5 separate regions of the Homo sapiens genome follow, and all the other regions are linked to region 1. Evidence: fine-mapped expression QTL. A gene starts in region 1. Each other region holds a variant in brackets. All regions are shown on one strand. Distances are from middle to middle. Region 1 holds the start of CYBRD1 (cytochrome b reductase 1). Region 2 overlaps CYBRD1 (cytochrome b reductase 1). Region 3 has its middle 41 kb from the start of CYBRD1. Region 4 has its middle 65 kb from the start of CYBRD1. Region 5 has its middle 21 kb from the start of CYBRD1.

The links. PIP is the estimated chance that this variant, and not a neighbour inherited with it, causes the effect. A credible set is the group of variants that fine-mapping cannot tell apart.
Region 2: its variant is the best candidate, but not a certain one, in a credible set for the expression of CYBRD1 in blood mononuclear cells (TOPMed, PIP 0.73).
Region 3: its variant is the best candidate, but not a certain one, in a credible set for the expression of CYBRD1 in monocytes (Fairfax 2014, PIP 0.82).
Region 4: its variant is the best candidate, but not a certain one, in a credible set for the expression of CYBRD1 in whole blood (TOPMed, PIP 0.70).
Region 5: its variant is the best candidate, but not a certain one, in a credible set for the expression of CYBRD1 in whole blood (INTERVAL, PIP 0.84).

Annotation. Positions count from the first base shown.
Region 1 is chr2:171,520,224-171,524,344 of GRCh38, forward strand. It overlaps CYBRD1 (cytochrome b reductase 1), which reads left to right and starts at 2,251. Exons shown (of 4, transcript NM_024843.4): 1 at 2,251-2,515. The coding sequence starts at 2,323. RefSeq lists an enhancer at 2,340-2,449 and silencers at 2,560-2,669, 2,820-2,889.
Region 2 is chr2:171,549,894-171,554,014 of GRCh38, forward strand. CYBRD1 (cytochrome b reductase 1) reads left to right here. Exons shown (of 4, transcript NM_024843.4): 3 at 3,453-3,607. Among named protein-coding and RNA genes, the nearest start is that of CYBRD1, 29 kb to the left of the region's middle. The variant T/C (reference allele first, on the strand shown) is at 2,350.
Region 3 is chr2:171,561,457-171,565,577 of GRCh38, forward strand. No RefSeq gene overlaps it. Among named protein-coding and RNA genes, the nearest start is that of CYBRD1, 41 kb to the left of the region's middle. The variant A/ACT (reference allele first, on the strand shown) is at 2,189.
Region 4 is chr2:171,585,239-171,589,359 of GRCh38, forward strand. It overlaps the pseudogene RPL21P38. Among named protein-coding and RNA genes, the nearest start is that of CYBRD1, 65 kb to the left of the region's middle. The variant G/C (reference allele first, on the strand shown) is at 2,498.
Region 5 is chr2:171,499,040-171,503,160 of GRCh38, forward strand. No RefSeq gene overlaps it. Among named protein-coding and RNA genes, the nearest start is that of CYBRD1, 21 kb to the right of the region's middle. The variant ATTGGCCACTCATATC/A (reference allele first, on the strand shown) is at 2,374.

The sequences.
Region 1 (4,121 bases):
CGTATACTTCCTGCACATTCTAAGGTCTTTCAAGACGGCAACAAGACAATATAGCAAAGTAGTCCTTGGAGATGAGCTACAGAAGAGGGCTAGAAGTGAACGTTCCCAAATGCATTCTGGAAGCCCTGGCAGTCAGAACCCTTTTTCTTATAATAGCATTAGATAATGCTGACATTGTTTTTGTCCAGTGGAGAAGGGTGAGGATAATGTTGGAAAGAGGGCAGGGAGCAAGCTTCACTTCATCAAGGAGGGGCTTTGGTTCAAATTGGTTTGGGTGGGCGGGCACTTTGAAAATCCATTTGTCACACTAAACGGCAAGTCCAGGTCCAGGAGGTTCCTGTCTTCCCTCTCTCAAGAGCAAACTGCAAGTAGTTTCATTGCAGGATAAGGCCAAGCCCACCGCTGCCCATGCTGTTTTTGTTTTGTTTCCAGACAGAGTCTAGCTGTCACCAGGCTGCAGTGCAGTGGTGCGATCATACCTCTCCTGAGCTCAAGTGATTCTCTTGCCTCCACCTCCCAAAGCCCTGGGATTACAGCTGTGAGACACCTCATGGGGACCCGGTTTACTGGGTTTTTTTTGTTTTTTGTTTTTTGTTTTTTTTTGAGACAGAGTCTCACTTTGTCACCCAAGCTGAAGTGCAGTGGTGCAACCTCAGCTCACTGCAGCCTCGACCTTCTGGGCTCAAGTGATCCTCCTTCCTCAGTCCCCCAAGTAGCTGGGGCTACAGGTGCATGCATTTGTATTTTCAGTAGAGACAGGGTTTCACCTTGTTGCCCAGGCTGTTCTCAAACTCCTGGACTCAAGTGATCTGCCCGCCTTAGCCTCCCAAAGTGCTAAGATTACAGGTGTGAGGCACTGCGCCTGGCCTTTACTGTTAACTTAAAACAAAAAATTATAAATTTGAAAAAAGAGGAGACTTTATTTCTTATAAAAGGTTATAGCCTGCAAGGAGGCCATTCCATAGGCTGATAAACATAGCCTCTGGCCTAAGACCAGAGACAGGCACTTGGAAGGCAGAGGGGTTGGGGTAGGAGCTTTATGCTGAACAGTTTGGCCAAACATACATACGTAACAGGTTACAGGAGGAGCTATGAATATTAATGGAGGTGGTCCTTACACATGCATATTGAACAAACATGCATGTAACATGTTCTCTTTGGGGTGGAGACTTAACATTTAATTGTATTACTTCAAATACATTTAAATGTATTACTTCAAACCTACACTTCAAAAGGTCTTTTCAGGACGTGAATGCATACAAGTGCACAATCCCTGTACACTGGCCAGAACCGGTCCATGGTCGGTCTTCTTATCATGAAAAAGTTCCTGAAATCAGCCCAGTGAAAGCTGTAGTTCTGGCTGGTGCAACAGGGGTTCAGCTGGTCAGCATCTGTGAACTGATTAAGTTGTAATTGTTTTAATATTGCTTATCTCAAGCCAGTGCTTGTTTAGCCTCTAGAGGAAAAGAAAACCTTTGTGGCAGTTAGACCATAGTTTATTTCTTAAGTGTAGGAGTGTGTGACTTAGGTCCTTTTTATAATTTGATGTCTTATTGCTACAAAGAGTCTGTTCTGTCCGCCTTATGATTTCTATTTTAAACATTAATGCTAGTCAGCTGTTGAGTCTAAATTCCAAAATGGAGGGGGTAGACTTCCCTTCCGGCTGTAGCTAGAAACTCAGCTTTAAGGTTTTTCTGGGGTCTGCTTGGCCAAGGAGGTCCATTCAGTCAGTGAGGGGCTTAGGATTTTATTTTTAGTTTACACCACCTTACAGGTTCCTCCTTAACACCCTTTGATGTCAGAGACAGCCAATTCTCCAGCACTGTGGCTAAGGAGGCTTCGTTAGTAGTTAAAAGCACACACATAACCCTACCCAACGGATCCCTCTCTTCTCTTAACCAAGAGGGCGCACCACTGCCCTACTCAACCTCCCCACAAATAAGGACGAGACACGGGAAGTGTTAAAAGCAAGTGGTGAGTATAAAATCCTCGGAATTTTCTCTTTGAGCAACTAACTAGGTCTGTTACTGAAGCCCTCTGCGAGCTTGGATGCTGGACGAGGGAGAGGGTGAGGCCACCAGGCAATGAGCGCCCTCGGCGGCCGCGTGATCCCGGGGGTGGGGCCCATTTCTGAGTTGGGGCCAGCTCCCCACCCCCAAGAGGCCCCACATTCCGGGCCAGCAGCCCAGAAAGTCCCTCCCCGCAGGCGGAGACAGCCCCAAGAAGTCGACGCCCCGGTCCCGCCGCCCGGCCACTACCCAGAGGGCTGCCGCCGCCTCTCCAAGTTCTTGTGGCCCCCGCGGTGCGGAGTATGGGGCGCTGATGGCCATGGAGGGCTACTGGCGCTTCCTGGCGCTGCTGGGGTCGGCACTGCTCGTCGGCTTCCTGTCGGTGATCTTCGCCCTCGTCTGGGTCCTCCACTACCGAGAGGGGCTTGGCTGGGATGGGAGCGCACTAGAGTTTAACTGGCACCCAGTGCTCATGGTCACCGGCTTCGTCTTCATCCAGGGCATCGGTACTGGCACCTCCTGGGGGGGTGCGGGGAGGAAAGCGGGGAGAACGGCGGGGGCAGAGGGTCCTCCGTGAAGCCCCTTCCAGCTGAGGAAGTGCTGGAGGATCGCGGGGCCCGGAGGAGTGCGGTGAGGAGCGCGCGGGAAGCCAAGTCGGCTGGGCGGGAGGGAGGCTGGCTGGCTCTGGGGCGGGACAGAGCTGCGGTTCAGGAGGATCGCCGCGAGCGCGGGGCCGGGGGTGCGCGGTGGAGACGCGCTGCTGGGGGCGGCGGAGCGGGGCCGGCCCCACTTGGTTAACTCTTTGCGGCGACTGGCTAGGACGCACTGGAGGGGCCTCCAAGACCCAGAAACTTGAGCCCGGGCGCGATGCCGGAGCGCCGCGCAGTCGGGCCGCTGCAGCCCACGCGCCCCGGAAAGTCGCCCCTGTGGACCGAGCCTGCGCGATCGGGGGCGCGGAAACACTTTCGCCTCAGCCTTTTGCTGAACTTGCTTCCAGGCTGCAGATGAGGAGGGGAAGGCAGCGGGGAAAAGATTGCCGGAGCGAGAATTTGCCCGTATTTGTAACATCCTCGGCCCTGGGTAAAGGGGCTGGCCAAGGGGGGCGAGTGAAGCATCCGCCCTGGGTTCCTCTCCTCCTAGAGTGTTAAACTCAGTCGAGTCCGGGAAGCTGCCAGGACTTCCAAGTGTGTTTCGCCGCCCTGCCCAGTCATTGGACGGTCTTGAGCCCGACTTGTTTATGTGGCAGAAGAGTGGCGAAAGTTCCCCCGCGGGGCTTCCTATTGGGCACTGGCCCAGCACTCCGGGTGGGAGATGCCCGGAGAGGGCCCGCGGCTGCCTGGCACCGAGGGATGCCTCTGCTCGGGATGCCCCCGGCGCAAGCTGCGTCCGTGTTTGGCCCGCGGCGAGCCAGCCCCGGGCCTGCATTCTCTGGGCTGAGGCTGGCGCGGGGGAGGGGCTCAGCAGTCGCTGGCAATGTTTGTTGTCATTGTGTAGTGCCTCTCAATGTCCTGACTGCTTCCTTCGGTTTGCCGTGTAGCTGGAGGAACCTCTAGCTTTTGGCGCAAACACCATTTATTTGTAACCACTTCCCCAAAGGCACGGCCTTCAGAAAGTAGTTAGAGAAAGGCAGCAAGGGGTGGAGTGGTGTTATGTCGCAGAAAATAATCGAGAGGAGTAGCAAGGGTTTGGAAAGATATGCCCACTGGCCGAAATCTCTAGCTTTGCCTGCGGGCAGGCTGCCTTTTCTTCACCAAATATTTAACTCCCCACAAACGAGTGTGCAAAAGAGTGCTGACCTCATTCCTAAAGAAAAGTGATTTTGGCTTTTGTTTTTGTTGGTTGTTTTAAACTTGTACTGCAGCTTTGGCAAGTGTGGCCAGCATTCTCCCACTCTGGAATGTAGTGGAAGGTGTTACTAACCCTCAGCATTCAAAGGCTTCCCTGGTGTGAGATCGGCATCAGGGTGTGAGATCGGCATCAGGGTGTGAGCACCACTGGGCACCTAAGGCATTTCGTTGCGTAACTCTCAGTTATTTTGCCACTATGCTTATAAGAAAAAAACATACTCAAGTTCCAAAGTAACTGTCAGAAGCACTCTTTCCTTCGTGGTGG
Region 2 (4,121 bases), 30 kb after region 1:
TATTCCACTACCTTCTCTTTTGAGGGTTTTCCAGACTGTTTATCCATATCTCTAGAATAATTTGAGTGAATCAACAGCAGTCATTTTCAAACTTCAACATACGTAAGAATCGTCTGGGCAGTTTGTTAAAAATACAGATTCCTGGGCCCTAATCCAGAAATTGGATTTAGCAGGTCAGAATGTGGCCCAGGCATCTTTTTATTTTTTATTTTTTTGTTGTTGTTGTTTTTGTTCTTGAGACAGAGCTTTGCTCTGTCACCCAGGCTGAAGTGCACAATGTCAGCTCACTGCAACCTCCGCCATCCGGGTTCAAGCAATTCTCTTGCTTCAGCCTCCAGAGTAGCTGGGACTACAGGCATGTGCCACCATGCCTGGCTAGTTTTTGTATTTTTAGTAGAGATGGGGTTTTGACATGTTGGCCAGGCTGGTCTTAAAATCCTGATCTCAAGTGATCCTCCTGCCTCGGCCTCCCAAAGTGCTGGGATTACAGCAGGCATCCCTTTAAATGCATGCCTTCTGTGAACAGCACTTCCAGTACTGACTTAGAGAGACAAAAGGTCTTATAATTTTCGGTCCACTAGGTTATAAATTATCACCTTCACTTGTAAGGTAGTAAGATTAAGATAGTTAAAAGGAAATAATGATTATTTATAAATTATAAGTTATTATAAATTATAAATATGCATTATTGCAGCATTCAGAACACTTTTAATCAAAGTTAAGCATTCTGTAATGTTTTTCTTTTCCTTTTAAATGTAATTTTCTTTTGTTGCAAAAAATGTTTAATGGTGAAAGTCAGATTTAGGGTAGTTAAGTTGCTCAGGGATCCTGTAAGCAAATTTCTGACCTCCTACCTGCTTAGACTGTTGAGCCCTACAGGATTGTAAGAGACACACATGACAAATTATGGAGGAAATGAGAGAAAACAGAAAGAATCTTAGGAATGAAAATAGGAGAGCAGGAATGAGAAATATATGTTTCTATGGGTAAGCCACAGAAAAGATATGATGATTTATGGAGATATATTTGTGCTATATCCCTGAGCCCCATTTTCTTTTCCTTTCTTTTCTTTTTTCTTTCTTAGACAGGGTCTCACTCTGTCACCCAGGCTGGAGTGCAATGGCACAATCTCAGCTCACTGCAACCTCCATCTCCAGGACTCAAGCAATCCTCCTGCCTCAGCATCCACAGTAGCTGGGACCACAGACGTGCACCACCATGCCCAGCTAATTTTTTGTAGAGATGGGGTTTCGCCATGTTGCCCGGGCTTGTCTTGAACTCCTGGACTCAAGTGATCTTCCCACCTTGGCCTCCCAAAGTGCTGGGATTACAGGCGTGAGGCACCACACTCAGCCCCCATTTTCATATAGAAAGCACAACATGGACATCAGGAAGCTTGCCCTTTGATACTAATAGAATCACTGAAGTTCACTGAAGAAGATTTAGGAATATTCTGAACCACCAAGAGGGAACCCTCTGAACCATTTCTAATATATTCAGGCATTTTGGTTATTAACTAAATAATAAAATATGCAAACCAACCTATCAAATGCATTTGTTATTACTTTTTAAATATAAATTACAGAATTTATTGTATTAGGATATACTTCAGAAAACAACAGTTAATCTTGGCTATTCTTGGCCCTTTGATCTATGTAAATTTTAGAATCAATGCATCAAATTCCACCAAAAATCTATTAGGATTTTATTTAATCTATAGATGAATTTGAGAACCGACATCTGTATAATACAAGTCTTCCAACTCATTATCCTGAGCCTGTTTTTTTAGCCTTCTCCAAAATATTGCAAAGCTTTATATTTTCTTTGTAGAGTTGTTGTCTCCAACTTATTGCTAGCTCCTTGCTATTAAAAATGGTATCATTAAAAATTAATTCACTTGTTGCCTCTTTACAAAAAGTGCAACTGATCTCAAGTATAAATTTATACCTAGCAAACTTGATAAACTTATGTTAGTAATTAATCTCAAGATTCTTTTGGATTGTGTTTTATAATCTTATGTGATTAATAAGTTTTGTTTCTTTTTCTATCATCATTTTTTTTTCTTGCTTAACTCAGTAGCTGAGACTTTCAGAAAAATGCTGAATAGGAATAGGTGATAAGGGATATAAGACAAATCCCTTCTAGATCTGAGTCATGTCTTGGAAGAGAGCTACTCTGAAATGCCTATAGACCATAAGCAGACTGTGTGTGAGCAAGAAATATACTTTTATATGTTAAGCTCTTGAAAATGGAGCCTGTTAGTTCCTATAGCATGTTCTGTCCTAATATAATCAGATTAAAATAATCATCTTCCATTCCTAGTTTGTTAAAACATCTCATACATGACTG[T/C]TGAATCCTACCAATGTTTTTCACCATCTGTTTTGATGATTATATGATTTTTCCTCTGCAGTCTGTTAAAGTGACAAATCATACAAATTGTTTTGTTATCAGTTTCCATTTATTACTACTTGGTATTACACATGAGCTGATTCTCAGTGTGAATTAGGGCGTTGGACCCCTCCCCCTGCCTCCCTTCTTCTGTCTCCCCATTAGCCCTTGGATCTCAATCAAGAAAGCTGAACAGTGATGTTAGTGCTTTCTCCCCACTCTCCTCTCTTTTCATAATTGTTTTGCTAGGATGGTAGATCCTAAATAGGCATCTGAAAAAAAATGTTCCTTTAAACTCAGTAATTCAGTAACCACAAAGTCATCTTTATCTTGTTGAAGAGAGGATACTTGATGGGCAAACGTGTGGGGTGACAAAACCGTGAAAGCGCAACAGACTTCAGTTTATATAGGAACCTTGCTGTCTTCTCTGCAAAGAGGTATCCCACTAGCGATTTCATTATCAAGGAAATGAAGACACCTTTTCTGCAGAATTCATTTCTTTCTCATAAAACAAAAATCAACTTCATTCCACATAGCTTTTTAGGTTGAACTGACTAAATTCTGTGTCCTAATGTACTCGGTTTTAGTGATTTAAAAAATCTTTTCCTTCCCTTCCTACTTAGCAACCTTAGGAGATTGGTAAAAACAAACAAGTAAGTACCAGAATGTTCACTATAGTCGGATTAAGGATAGCAAAAACCAAACAGAAACATCCATAGAGAACTGTATAAATAAATTGTTATAGCCTTAGGATATTAGCCATTAAAAGGAATAAATTAGGTAAATGTATAGGTATGAAAAAGATTTCCAAGATATTCTGTTAAGGGAAAAAAGCAAGATGCAGAACAATATGTATAGGGATAATAAATTTTCTGGAATGATCCATGAGAAGGTGATAAAAGGGGTTACATTAGGTAGTGGAACTGGAGCGAGGAAACTTCATTTTCTACCCTTTGGTTCTATATGAAAGGTTTTGTCATATTACACATATTGCTTTTTAAATAATTTAAAATTAGTTTAGAACTTAAAATTAAATGATAACCTTTGCACTTTTTGGTGTTTAGCTTCTTTCAGGTTTTTCAGTCTTTCTGCTTCCATGGGCTCCGCTTTCTCTCCGAGCATTTCTCATGCCCATACATGTTTATTCTGGAATTGTCATCTTTGGAACAGTGATTGCAACAGCACTTATGGGATTGACAGAGAAACTGATTTTTTCCCTGTAAGTTGCATAGTCTTCTTAATTGTAATACTTAAGCCACAAAATGTTAAATACTTGTTCACTGGGAAAATGTAATAAAAATATAACAAAATTTTTTAGATATTAAAATTAAAAAATATTTTAAAGAATTTGTTATATCATATAGGTAATATGATATTACTAAAAGTTTAGAAGGACCAAAAAGTCTGACAAATTGTATTACTCTTATGAAACAACTATTGAAGTTATACATTCCCTTTCAATCTTGTTGATATGCATGTTTTTATATTAATTGTAATTATAGTGTACATACATTTTTGTTTCATCCTTTTTAAAAATTTTAAGTGATAACTGTTACTGGTGGAGGGTGTCCAGGTTCTTGGCGTTTTGAACAAAGAAGTGGACAAAACACACAAACAAAGCAAGTAAAGAATGAAGCAACAAAAGCAGAGAGTTACTGAAAATGAAAGTACACTCCACAGGGCGGGAGTGGCCTGAGCAGCCACTCAACGGCCCGATAGGGAATCTTCTTGGG
Region 3 (4,121 bases), 41 kb after region 1:
GAGTGGTGAAGGTTTGAGCAATTACTTGTTGACAGTTATGTTCTATTTTTTTCTTCATTGCCTGGAAGAAATGTGGCTGGATTAAGAGTTGCACAAGTGTGCAGTCGCAGCACTGGTCCCTCAAGTAATAGAGCCTGATGTTTAAGCAAATGGTTGTCTGACAGCCACAAGTCTCCACACAGTGAGATCTCTTCCCTGTATCATTTTAACTGCTTCAGATACTAAGACTGCTACTGCTGCCACTACCAGTAAAAAATGAGGCCAACCCGTTGTCACTGCATCAGTTTCCTTACTCAAGTATGCCATGGGTTGCAAGCTGGTCCCTCGGACCTGTGTAAGGACTCCTAGAGCTATTCCTGTTTTTTTCTGTTGCATATAAGGAAAAGTCTTGCCCTGTTGGCAAGCTTAACACTGGGGCTTGGTTAGGGCCTTTAGGGCCTGGAAAACCACTTCTGCTTCAGGTGTCCATCTTACTAAATGGGTATTGGCTTTCTGAGTTTTCTTAATTAGTGTATATAATGACCTGGCTATTTCGCCGTACCTGGGAATCCATATTCGGCAGAAGCCTGTTATGCCAAGGAACCCTGTTAGTTGCTTTAGTGTTTTGGAATGAGGATAAGCCGGTATAGGCTGGATACATTTCTCACCAAGGGCAAAACTTCTGGTGAGTGTACTCTTTCTGCAGGAAGTAAAAATGGCCTTACTAAATAAATTAAATTTATGTTCAAGTACTATTTCTTTACAGCACCTGGGAACAAGCATTTCAAACAACTCCTTACCATTTATTCCCCGGGTCCACATCTCTTCTTAAAGGAATGTGGACTTTCTTCCATGATTATCGGCTGTATGAAGAACTGTCTTGGAACCAAGAGAATACATCTTCATAGGATGCAGGCTTCAGGGAGCTAGAATAGAGGAGTGGGGAGCACAAACTGAAAAGGGTTCCCCTCACTCACTACAGAGGCACAACCCGTAAGGCCAGCCATTCTAAGGACAGGCCAATTTGGGTGGGTGAGGATGCTCGATACGGGAGCGGTCCAGGAGCACATGTCTGCCGACCTTTGTTCATGTCAGAGGTAGCCCACAGGGCAGTGCTCATTTATATCACCAATCCATAAGAATACATTTTTGTTTTGTCAAAAAGACAATGTCTATAGAATTATCTGAAACCTGTTTTTTCAGATCTGACTAGAGTGAGTTAGCTATGATCACTTTCCTTCTGGTAGCCACTCAAGGGGCGTGATAGGCGAGTGAGGTTTATAGAGTGAAAGGAAGACGGCTCATGCAGGATTTGGCTGGTGAGTGTTCTATTAGGGTGAGAATTTTGGAAGGAGAAGCTTTCTGATTGACTTTCAAATACAGTTGGCAATCTGGTTGGTATAATATCTACTGGTACATAACTAGGAAATTTCTAGGCTGAGTGGAATAGTATGAGTTTTTCTGTTTCAACGGGAAGAATATCTGGTTGTCAGCCTCAGGGTCAGAACTGTACATAAGCAATCCCTTAGTTTGGTGAATGTTATGGCAGAAATTTAGTCTGAAGTCTAGTCCAAATAAATGTTTTCTATATTCTCATATCTATTTATATGAATCTTATCACATTAAGGCTAGACTGAGACATGTCACAAATTTCTCTCTTGTGGAATGAAGGTGAAAAAGAGAAATATAAGCATTGGGTGAATGTTGAAATGGATAAGTTCTGAGATTCCTCTTAAAGTTTAGATTCTGATGAGATTTCCTGAACAGGTGCCTCTCTTGTGGCTCAGGTACCAGAGGGACTCTGTAGAACTCCAGGGGGCCAGGCCCTAGCTCAGCCCTGGCACACACAGGCAGGCCCTAGAGTAGCCACTAGTGATGAAGGAGGAGGGCAGGAAGCATCCTTGCCCTCCCCAACCCACGACCTGGCTCCCTGTCTCTATCAGCGCTCACATTCCCCATTCAAACCTCTAGGTCTTGAGCAGATTGTAGGAGGTTCTGGCCCAGTGAACTCACCTGGAACACTCAAATGAAGGAAGTAAAAGGGTGTGAGGCAAGAGGAGCAGTGACAGCCTTAAGTGTGAGCTAATTCACCCCAAGAGCAAGCAAAAGTGCAAATAAAACTCAAGGGTGTGGAAAAGTGTGGAGTGATGATTAGGATTCAGGCCTCTCCTTGCCTAGCCTTCCTCCATTCTCTCTCTCTCAACCTCTC[A/ACT]CTCTCTCTCTCTCTCTCTCTGTCTCTGTCTCATTTAACAGAGCACTGGATTGCGAATGGAGTGCAAGTAGAGACTGAGAATCACCACTGTAGTGATTGTATCTGTGTGGCAAATCATCTTAAAGATTTCTTGTATTTGGAAACAATGTCTAATAAAGAATGGCCAAATACAAAGTTACACTATACAAAAACTATGTCATCAAAAATTATATTGTTCAAGTGAATAATTAGCAATATGAAAATATGTTCATAAAATATTAAGTGAAAGAAATTGAATATAAAAGAGTTTGTAAATGTGAATGTGCATACACTTTCAAATAACTGGAGGCATAATATACCAAATAGTTAATTAGTTAATAATGGTTATCTTTGGCCTGGTGTGGTGGCTCATGCCTGTCATCCCAGCACTTTGGGAGGCCACGGTGGGTGGATCACCTAAGGTCAGAGACCAGCCTGGCCAACATGGTGAAACCCTGTCTCTACTAAAAGTACAAAGGAAAAAAAAAAAGACAGATGTGGTGGTGCGGGCCTGTAATCCCAGCTACTTGGGAGGCTGAGGCAGGAGAATCACTTGAACCTGGGAGGCAGAGCTTGCAGTGAGCCGAGATCGCACCACTGCACTCCACCCTGGGTGACAGAGCAAGACTCTGTCTCAAAAAATAAAGTAAAATAAAATAAAATAATGTTAAAAAATGGTTATCTTTGAGACATGGTAGGATAATGGGCATTTTTCATTTTCTTCTTTTTGTTTTCTCTGTATTTTCTATAATTAAGTATCACTTTTGTACTAAGAAAAACATGTATTATCGGAATCCCGTCTGCCTCATTGACATCATCCAAATGTTTGCTTAGTCTAATTTATCAAGAAATTGAAGATAATATATTTATAATTGAAATAAATGTTTTCCTAACACCAGGAAAGAGGAACTAAAGCATTTGCCAAGATCCTAACTTGGTCAGATACCGGAATGGCCTGAGGGACTATTTGCTTTGCAGCATTGTTAATCTCCAGATCGCAGAGACATAAACATTTACAAGTCTTCCGAAGGTCATGCAATCACTGGAAGCTGGGCAGTATATACTTGTAAGAACTGGACAAAACAGAAAAATCTGGATTCTTGTAGGAACTCTATCATGGTCCACGGGTGTAATCTTGGGCAAGCCGCTTAATCTCTCCATCTGCTACAAAAAACAGGTCCTTTTATATTCACTCACCAATTAGTGATTGAGGATGTCTTGTGTGCACTGCTCCTAGGCACTGCCTGGGGCTCATGCTGAAAGCTATGAATCTGTTATTTTATAGACTATTGCAGCCAGTTTAATTCATACACCATTTCCATCCTTCAGCACAGAATTACCTACAATTCTCATGGCTTACAACTGGAATAAACCTTTGTAATCTAGGTATCGAGGGCTCCAAAAAAGAGAGACAGTTAGTAGGCTTTGTAAAAGTGACAAAAGAGGCAAAAATGGGACCAGACACAGTGGCTCACAGATATAATCCCAGCACTTTGGGAGGCTGAGGCGGGCCGACCACTTGAGGCCAGGAGTTCAAGACCAGCCTGGCCAACATAACAAAACCCAGTCTCTATTAAAAATACAAAAAATTAGCCAGGTGTGGTGGCACACACCTTTAATTTCACCTACTCCGTAAGCTGAGGCAGGAGAATCGCTTAAACCCGGGAGGCAGGAAGCGAAGGTTGCTGTGAGCTGATATTGTGCCACTGCACTTAAGCCTGGGCAACAGAGTGAAACTCTATGTCAAAAAAAAAAAAAAAAAAAGAAAAGAAAAAAAGGCAAAATAGGGTAAGGAATAGACTGAGTAAAGAGTTAGAGATGGGTCAGAACAGAATCCACTTGGCCCAGATTAGCTTGGAGGGCAGGGAGGAGGGATGAAACCCTGAGCAAAAAGCAATAAGAGAAATTACAGATC
Region 4 (4,121 bases), 65 kb after region 1:
CTTGTTGTTAAAGAGGATCCCATCTTTGCCACCTCTTTTTCATCTTCTGTCTTCTGAGGATGGGTCTGCCAGATGTGTTCTCTGGACTTTTAGGAAATTGAATTTGGAGGAAAGGGAAGAAGATTGAGGACAAGAAGCACTCAGGTTAGTGGTGGTAGAGAAATTTCTCAGAGAAAACCCCTGCTTTTATCTGAGCACATGGCCTCCCAGAATCTCCAGCTTCCTTTGCAGCTAGGTGTGACCATATTAGCCAGATGACTAGGTTTTGGCCAATGGAATGCAAGTCAAAATAATGTGTATAACTTCTGGGTTATGCCTTTAAGATGAAGGGATATGATTCTCTTCTTTCGCTTTTTCTGCCAGCAGGAATATGGGAGTGGGAGTGGGTCATCTTGTTCATGAAGATAAAGGCAGCATCCAACACATCACAGAACAAGAGAGAAGAAACCTAAGCCCTTGACTACCTAGCAAAAGAAAGCCGCCATGTTTTCCCATGAGAGGAATAATCTTCTCACATGTTAAAGCCATGGATACCATTTCTTACATGCTTGAGTGGATTTCCACCCAATGTCATATCTGTCTCAGGCTCTGGGCCCTCTTGGCACCGCCTATCCCACTGTAATTAACTAGGCCAAGTTTAGGATAGTGCAAGGTACAATTTGTTCTACACTTTTTCTCTTGCTCCCCACCCTGTGGTTCTTAGACTATTTTCTCTATGAAAAGCATTACACAATGTTTTTTCCCTCCTTCTGTTCTCTGCTCTAAGCTTTCAGTCAATCAGTCACTCTCTCCCCCTCTCTCTAAGGCTCTTATTAAGCTCACCACCACCTTTGTACTGCTGGCATCTATTAAGGCTGCAATTCTGTGGTTCTGCTGCTCATTCCCAACTGACTTGTTACACAGTCAAATGGGGCAATTTATCCCCTTCAGAAAACTCCATGTCTTCTTCCATAGGAAAAGGACAGGCTCTCTCACATAAAACCACTGGAAAGATTACTTTCTCAAGGAAAACAAACACATTCTCGCTGTGATGTCTCATGACACAGCCACTCTTGGAAGAACTAACTGGATCTCAACAGGACAGATCCAAAGACCGAAACCAGCCCCACCCCATCCCCATAGGAAATCTTCTTATGGGGGATAAAGGGTCACTTGCTCAAGTCAGAGAAAATGGTATCTCCCTAAAGAGCAATCGACAGTCCAGCCAAGCTGTTGGCATGAGAAAGAGGCTGTGAGAATTACAGCAGCATCTTCCCAAGACAGCGGGGCATGGCCATGGGAACGCCAGGAATAAGCTATATTTGGAGAAATTGCCTTGTGTTTGGTATTAGGAGGTTTTGTCAGCAGATACCAGGACTCTGGGCATCAGGCAGAAGTTTAAAGACAGGATTTCAGGCCCTGGAGTAGTGATTCTTGACTGGAGGTTATTTTGTCTCCCCAGTACCTCAATGGCAAAATACCTCAATGGCACAGTAGGGTAAAGACATGGAAATAGGGCTGGGCATGGTGATGCATGCCAGTAATCCCAGCACTTTGGGAGGCCGAGGTGGGAGGATCGCTTGAGCATGGAAGGTTGAGGCTGCAGTAAGCCACATTGGCACCACTGTTTACTCTAGCCTGGGTGACAGAGTGAGATCATACTCAAAAACAACAAAAAAGAGAGATCAGAATGCTTATGACCAGAGGCAACTTGGCCAGGGCCTCCAGCAGCCCCACATCCACTTCTCACCCATCTGACTTGGCCTCTTCAGGGCTGAGTGTTTAAAATCTCTGAGGCCCACTCAGAACACACCAGATAGAAAGCTCTGCTATTGCCTTTTGGCTGGAACCTCCGTCTTCCAGTAATTCGCCAAAATGATGAACACGGGAAAAGAGGAGAGGCACCAGATATATGTTCTCTAGGCCTTTTAGAAAACATGGGGTTTTTCCTTTGGCCACGTATATGTGAATCTATGAGAAAGGTGATATTGTAGACATCAAGAAAATGGATACTGTTCAAAAAGGAATGCCCCACAAATGTTAACCATGGCAAAACTGGGAGAGTCTACAGTGTTCCCCAGCGTGCTGTTGGCATTGTTATAAACAAACAAGCTAAGGGCAAGATTCTTGCCAAGAAAATTAATGTGCATATTGAGCATGTTAAACATTCTAAGATCCCTGATAGTTTCCTGAAACACATGAAGGAAAATGATCAGAAAAAGAAGGAAGCCAAAGAGAAAGCTACCCGGGTTCAGCTGAAGTGCCAGCCTGCTCCACCCAGAGAAACACACTTTGTGAGAACCAGCGGGAAGAAGCCTGAGCTGCTGGAACCTATTCCCTATGAATTCATGGCTTAATAGATGTTTAAAATATCAAAGACCTCTGGACTGTAAAAATGTTTCTCTTCATTGAGTAGAAGTGTGGTGTCATCTCCCACAAAGATACATTTAAAGCAAATTTTAATTGTGTCCTAATTCATTGTGTAATATCTTTACTATTCTAATTTAAAGTTTTTCTT[G/C]CTGAAAGATGTGAGGTAGCTTATTGTGCAACAAATTACTCAATTGGTTAGAAAACGGGCAGATGTTATTTATGAACTGTTTGTACTGGTTTGAAGATAGTCCCTCTAAATCATCATGGGGCTGGGCGTAGTGGGTCGCACCTGAAATCCCAGCTCTTTGGGAAGCCCAGGAGGGCGGATCACTTGAGGCCAGGAGTTTGAGACCAGCCTGGCCAGCATGGCAAAGCCCTGTCTCTACTAAAAATATAAAAATTAGCTGGGCGTGGTGGCACATGCGTGTAATCTCAGCTACTGTGAGGCTGAGGCATGAGAATTGCTTGAACCCGAGAGGTGGAAGTTGCAGTGAGCTGAGATCACACCACTGGACTCCAGCCTAGGTGACAGAGCAAAACTCTATCTCAAAAAAAAAAAAAAAAAAAAAAAAAAAAAGAATTTTGGAAGAAATAAAATAATTTATAAAAAAAGACAGCTCTGCTATTATCACTAAATATATTTAATTACTAGCTATAATTTTTCCAACAGAGAAAACACCAGGCCTAGTTAGTTCAAAAGGTAAGCACAACCAAACATTCAAGAGATCAGTGCAATCATATGTGAAGTCTTGCAGAGAATAGAAAAAGAGAGATGAGCATCCAACTCATTATATAAGGCTAGTGTAATTTTGATACTAAAACCAGATAAAGACCTGGAAAAGAAACGTTCAAGCCAGTGTAATTTATTTGAAAATCCTTTTAAAAATTTAGCAAATCAAATCAGCAATGTATAAAGAAGTTAATCTATTGTGACCAAGATAGTTTATTCCTACAATAAAAGCTTAATTTCACATTAGAGTAATTTACCACATTATCAGATTAATGAAAAAATATTATTAGCTCAATAGATACAAAAAACAGCAATTGATTAAATCTAGTCATCAATGATTTTAAAAATTCTTAGTAAATGAAGGCTAAAAGGAAACTATCTAACATGATAAAGGGAAGTTGCAAAAATCTAACAGCACATATCACACTTAATGGTGAGACCTTAAAAAGCATTTTCTTTAAAACTAAGAACACGGTAAAGATGACTGTTCTCACCACTTCTGTAACATTGTACTAGGTGATCTAGCTTGCCCTTAAAATGGGAAAGAGGAATAAAAGGTATGAGGACCTGAAAGAAACAAACTATTCCTACTTGTGAATATCTTGCTAGGAAACTCAAAAACTCCATCAAAAAGCCATTAGACTTCATAGGAGCTTAGCAAGTCTGCCTTAAGTAAGGTCAATATACAAAATACAATTACACATGTATACTTCAGCAACAAATATTTAGAACACACAATTAAAGATGCCAATTACAACGGCAATTAAAAAAAAGACACCTTTGGAGTAAATCTAACAAAAATGTGAAGGCTTTTACAGAAAAAAATAATAAAAACTTCAGTAAAAGACAAAAAGAAGATACAAATAGTATTTCCCTAAAATAAGCTGTAGATTTAATGACTTTCTATTCACAGAACTTGACAAGCTGACCCTAAAATTTATATATTTTATATAGCAAAGCAAAGGGCCAAAGATAGCCAAAATAATCCTGAAGAAGAACAAGTGTCAGTAATTACACTACTACCAGGTATTAAGAATTGATA
Region 5 (4,121 bases), 21 kb before region 1:
CCCAACTTTGTTGTGATGTATCATTTTATTTTTTTAATATTTAGTTTGCCATTATTTTGTTTAATGAAGACTTTAACTTATAAGCAGTTTATATTAATTTGAGGTAGTCTAATGTTTTTGCTGCAACAATCAGAAAATAAAATGGATAAATTGCAAAATTATACTTTTAAAGATATTAGAGAGTTTTGGAACAAGGAGGAATAGATGAACTGAAATTCTAGAAGGGTAAGAACCCTCTCTAGGTGAACTAACAATTGTCTTTGTTTTCTTCACCTGTGGGCCTGACCCCCAGGCAGAAAGACGCTAGTAGAAGAAGGAGAAACCAGTAGAACTTTTGACAGTCGCACAGGGCTGTTGTGACCTATAAGAAACTGGAAGAGCCCAAATGCAAGGCTAGTTTCCCGTGAGACATTTTCTGAGTTTTAGGGTGATCTGTGAGGCTGGGAGCTGGGCCAAAAAGGCAAACTGAACTCTCCCATTGTCTTGTTCTGCTTAGGGAAAAAAATTCTACGAAGGGAAAGGAGTCTTTCACAAATTCACAACTAGTCTGTCACTCATGCTGGTGACATGCTTGTTCAGCCTGAAGAATTGTGAGACAAATAAACTTTTCTTTATAAATTACCCAGCCTCAGGTATTCCTTTATAGCAACAAACAAAAAAATGGACTGACACAGTATTAGTTTGCTAGGAATGCCATAACAAAGTACCACAGACTACAAAGCTTAAAAGACAGAAATTTATACTGTCACATTTCTGGAGGCTAGAAGCTGGAGATCAAGATGTCAATTAGTCTTCTCCCAATGGACCAATGAGGGGAGAAAAAGATGTCAATTGGGTTGTTTTTTCTGAGGCCTCTTTCTTTGGCTTGTAGATAACAGTATCCTCCCTGTGTCCTCACATGGTCTTTCCTGTATGTGTGTGTCTATGTCCCAATCTCCTCTTCTTATAAGGACATAGTCACATTACCCACTACCCACCCTAATGAACCCCCCGCCTTTTAATTTTTTTATTTTATTATCTTTTTTTGAGATGAAGTCTCGCTCTGTGGCCCAGGCTGGAGTGCAGTGGCGCGATCTCGGCTCACTGCAACTTCCACCTCCCAGGTTCAAGCAATTTTCCTGTCTCAGCCTCCTGAGTAGCTGGGACTATAGGCACCACATCCAGCTAATTTCTGTATTTTTAGTAGAGACAGGGTTTCACCAGGCTGGTCTCAAACTCTTGACCTCAGGTGATCCACCCACCTTGGCCTCCCAAAGTGCTGAGATTACAGGGTGAGCCACCACGCCCGGCCTAATGAGCCCAGTTAAACTTAATTGCCTCTTTAAAGACCCCATCTCCAAATATAATCACATTGTGAGGTATTGGGGGTTAGGACCTCAACATATGAATTTGTGAGGGACACAATTCGGCCCATAACAATGGAGGCCAAAGAGCTAAGCTCACACCTCGAAAGCACAGGACTTCATGTTTTCAGGGCTGAGGACTCAATTAGGACTTGTAAAATCAGGACTTTACAAACTCTCAATTAAAAGCCCTGACCCAACTCAATCACTGATTGGAGTGGACTGTCCTTCAGTCTATCTGTCTAACTGAGGAAAGGAGGAATACCCACTAGTAAGAGATGTCAGTTGGAGCCTTCATCTCTTGTACACAAGGTCTGTCATATAATAAAAGACATGTAAAGAAGCAGAAAACCTGTCCAGGCATGGTGGCTCACACCTATAATCCCAGCACTTTGGGAGGCTAAGGCAGGCAGATCACTTGAGCCCAGGAGTTTAAGACCAGCCTGGGCAACATAGTGAAACCTCATCTGTACAAAAAATACAAAAATTACCTGGGCATGGTGGCACATGCCTGTAGCCCCAACTACTAGGAGCCTAAGGTGGGAGGACTGCTTGAGCCTGGGTGGTGAAGGCTGCAGTGAGTCCTGGCCGTACCACTGCACTCCACTGGCTGGACAAGAGAGTGAGACCCTGTCTCAAAAAAAGAAAGAAAAGAAAAGAAAAAAAGAAGCAGAAAAATATGACCAATGACCAAGAGAAAATATTAACAATAGAAGTAGACCAATGGAGGATCCAGATATCAGAAATAGCAAAGACTTTAACTGTTATAAATATGTTAAGTTAGAGGAAAATATAGATAAGATGGATGAAAACATGGAGAATTTCAACATGGAATTGAAATATATTTTAAAAAACAGGATGAACATTCTAGAACTGAAACACATAATCTGTGAAATTAAGAACTCACTGGATGGCTTTAACAACAGACTGGAAACAGCAGGATTGGATTAGTGAATGAAAGACAGGCTATTAGAAAACATTAAACTACAAGGAGGAAAAAGATCGTAAAGGAACAGAAAATTATGTGCTT[ATTGGCCACTCATATC/A]TTGGCCACTCATATCTTTTATGGTAAAGTATCTGTTCAAATCTCTGGGCCATTTTTTAAGAAATGTGTTGTTTGTGCTTATAGAAACAATACATTGAGTTGTAGATATTCCTGTAGATATTCCCAACACATTGAGTTGTGTACATCTTGAGTTGTAGATATTCCTTTTATACCCTGAATACCAGAACTTTCTCAAGTATATAGAAATTTTTTCTCAAATATTCAAATTTTTAAAAAATTGAGGTGAGGCTGGGTGCAGTGGCTCATGCCTATAATCCAAACACTTTAGGAGGCCGAGGCAGGACAATCAGTTGAGCCCAGGAGTTCGAGACCAGCCTGGGCAACATAGCGAGACTCTGTCTCTATAAAAAGTTTTAAAAAATTAGTCAGGCATGGTGGCGCATGCCTGTAGTCCCAGCTACTCTGGCAGCTGAGGCAGGAGGATTGCTTGAGCCCGAGAGTTCAAGGCTGCAGTGAAATAGTATCACACCACTGCACTCCAGTCTGGACAACAGAGCAAGATCCTATCTGAATCAATCAGTCAGTCAATCAATCAATAAAAATTAAAACTGAGGTAAATATACATAACATAAAATTAACCATTAAAAGTGAACAATGCTGTGGCATTTAGTATATTCATGATATTGTACAACCAACATCTCTATCTAGTTCCAAAACATTTTTATTACTCCAAAAGGAAACTTTATAGTCATTAAACAGTTACTCTCCAGTCTCCCTTCCCCATAGCCCTTGGCAACCACTAATCTGTATTCTATCTCTATGAATTTGCCTAATCTAGATATTTCATATAAATGAATTCATATAATATGTGACTTTTTGTGTTTGGCTTCTTTCATTTAGTATAACGTTTTCAAAATTCATTCATGTTGTAATATGTGTCGCTATTTCATTCCTTTTCAGGGCTGATTAACATTCCATGGTATGTGTATGCCACAATATGTTTATCCATCAATTGATGGGCATCTGGGTTGTCTCCACCTTTAAAGTATTGTGAATAGTGCTTCTATGAATATGCATGTACCTGTATGTCTTTGGGTACCGGTTTTCAATTCCTTGGGGTATATTCCTAGATGTGGAATTGGTGGGTCATATTCTATGTTTAACTTTTTGAGAAACTGTCACACCCTTTTCCACAGCATCCATACCATTTTACATTTCCATAAGCAATGTATGAGGATCTCTATTTCTTCATATCCTTACCAAAGCTTATTATTTTCCCTTTAAAAAAGTTATAGCCATTCTATTTCTTCAAATCCTTACCAAAGCTTATTATTTTCCCCTTTAAAAAATTATAGCTATACTAGTTGGTATGAAGTGATATCTCATTGTGGTTTTGATTTGCATTTCCCTAAAGACTAACGATGTTGATCGTCTTTTCATGTGCTTCTTGGCCATTTTTTATCTTCTTTGAGAAATATCTTTTCAAGTCCTTTCCCCATTTTTAAATTGGATTGTTTGTATTTTTGTTGTTGAGTGATTAAGAGTTCTTTTTCTGGATGTTAGACCTTTATCAGATGTATGATTTGCAAATATTTTCTCCCTTCTCCCATTCTGTAAGTTGTCTTTTCACTGTTCTTGATAGTGTTCTTTGATGTACAAAAGTTTTTAATTTGGATAAAGTCCAATTTATTTTATTTTTATTTATTTATTTTTCAGACAGGGTCTCACTTTGTCACCCATGCTGGAGTGTAGTAGCACCATTTCAGCTCACC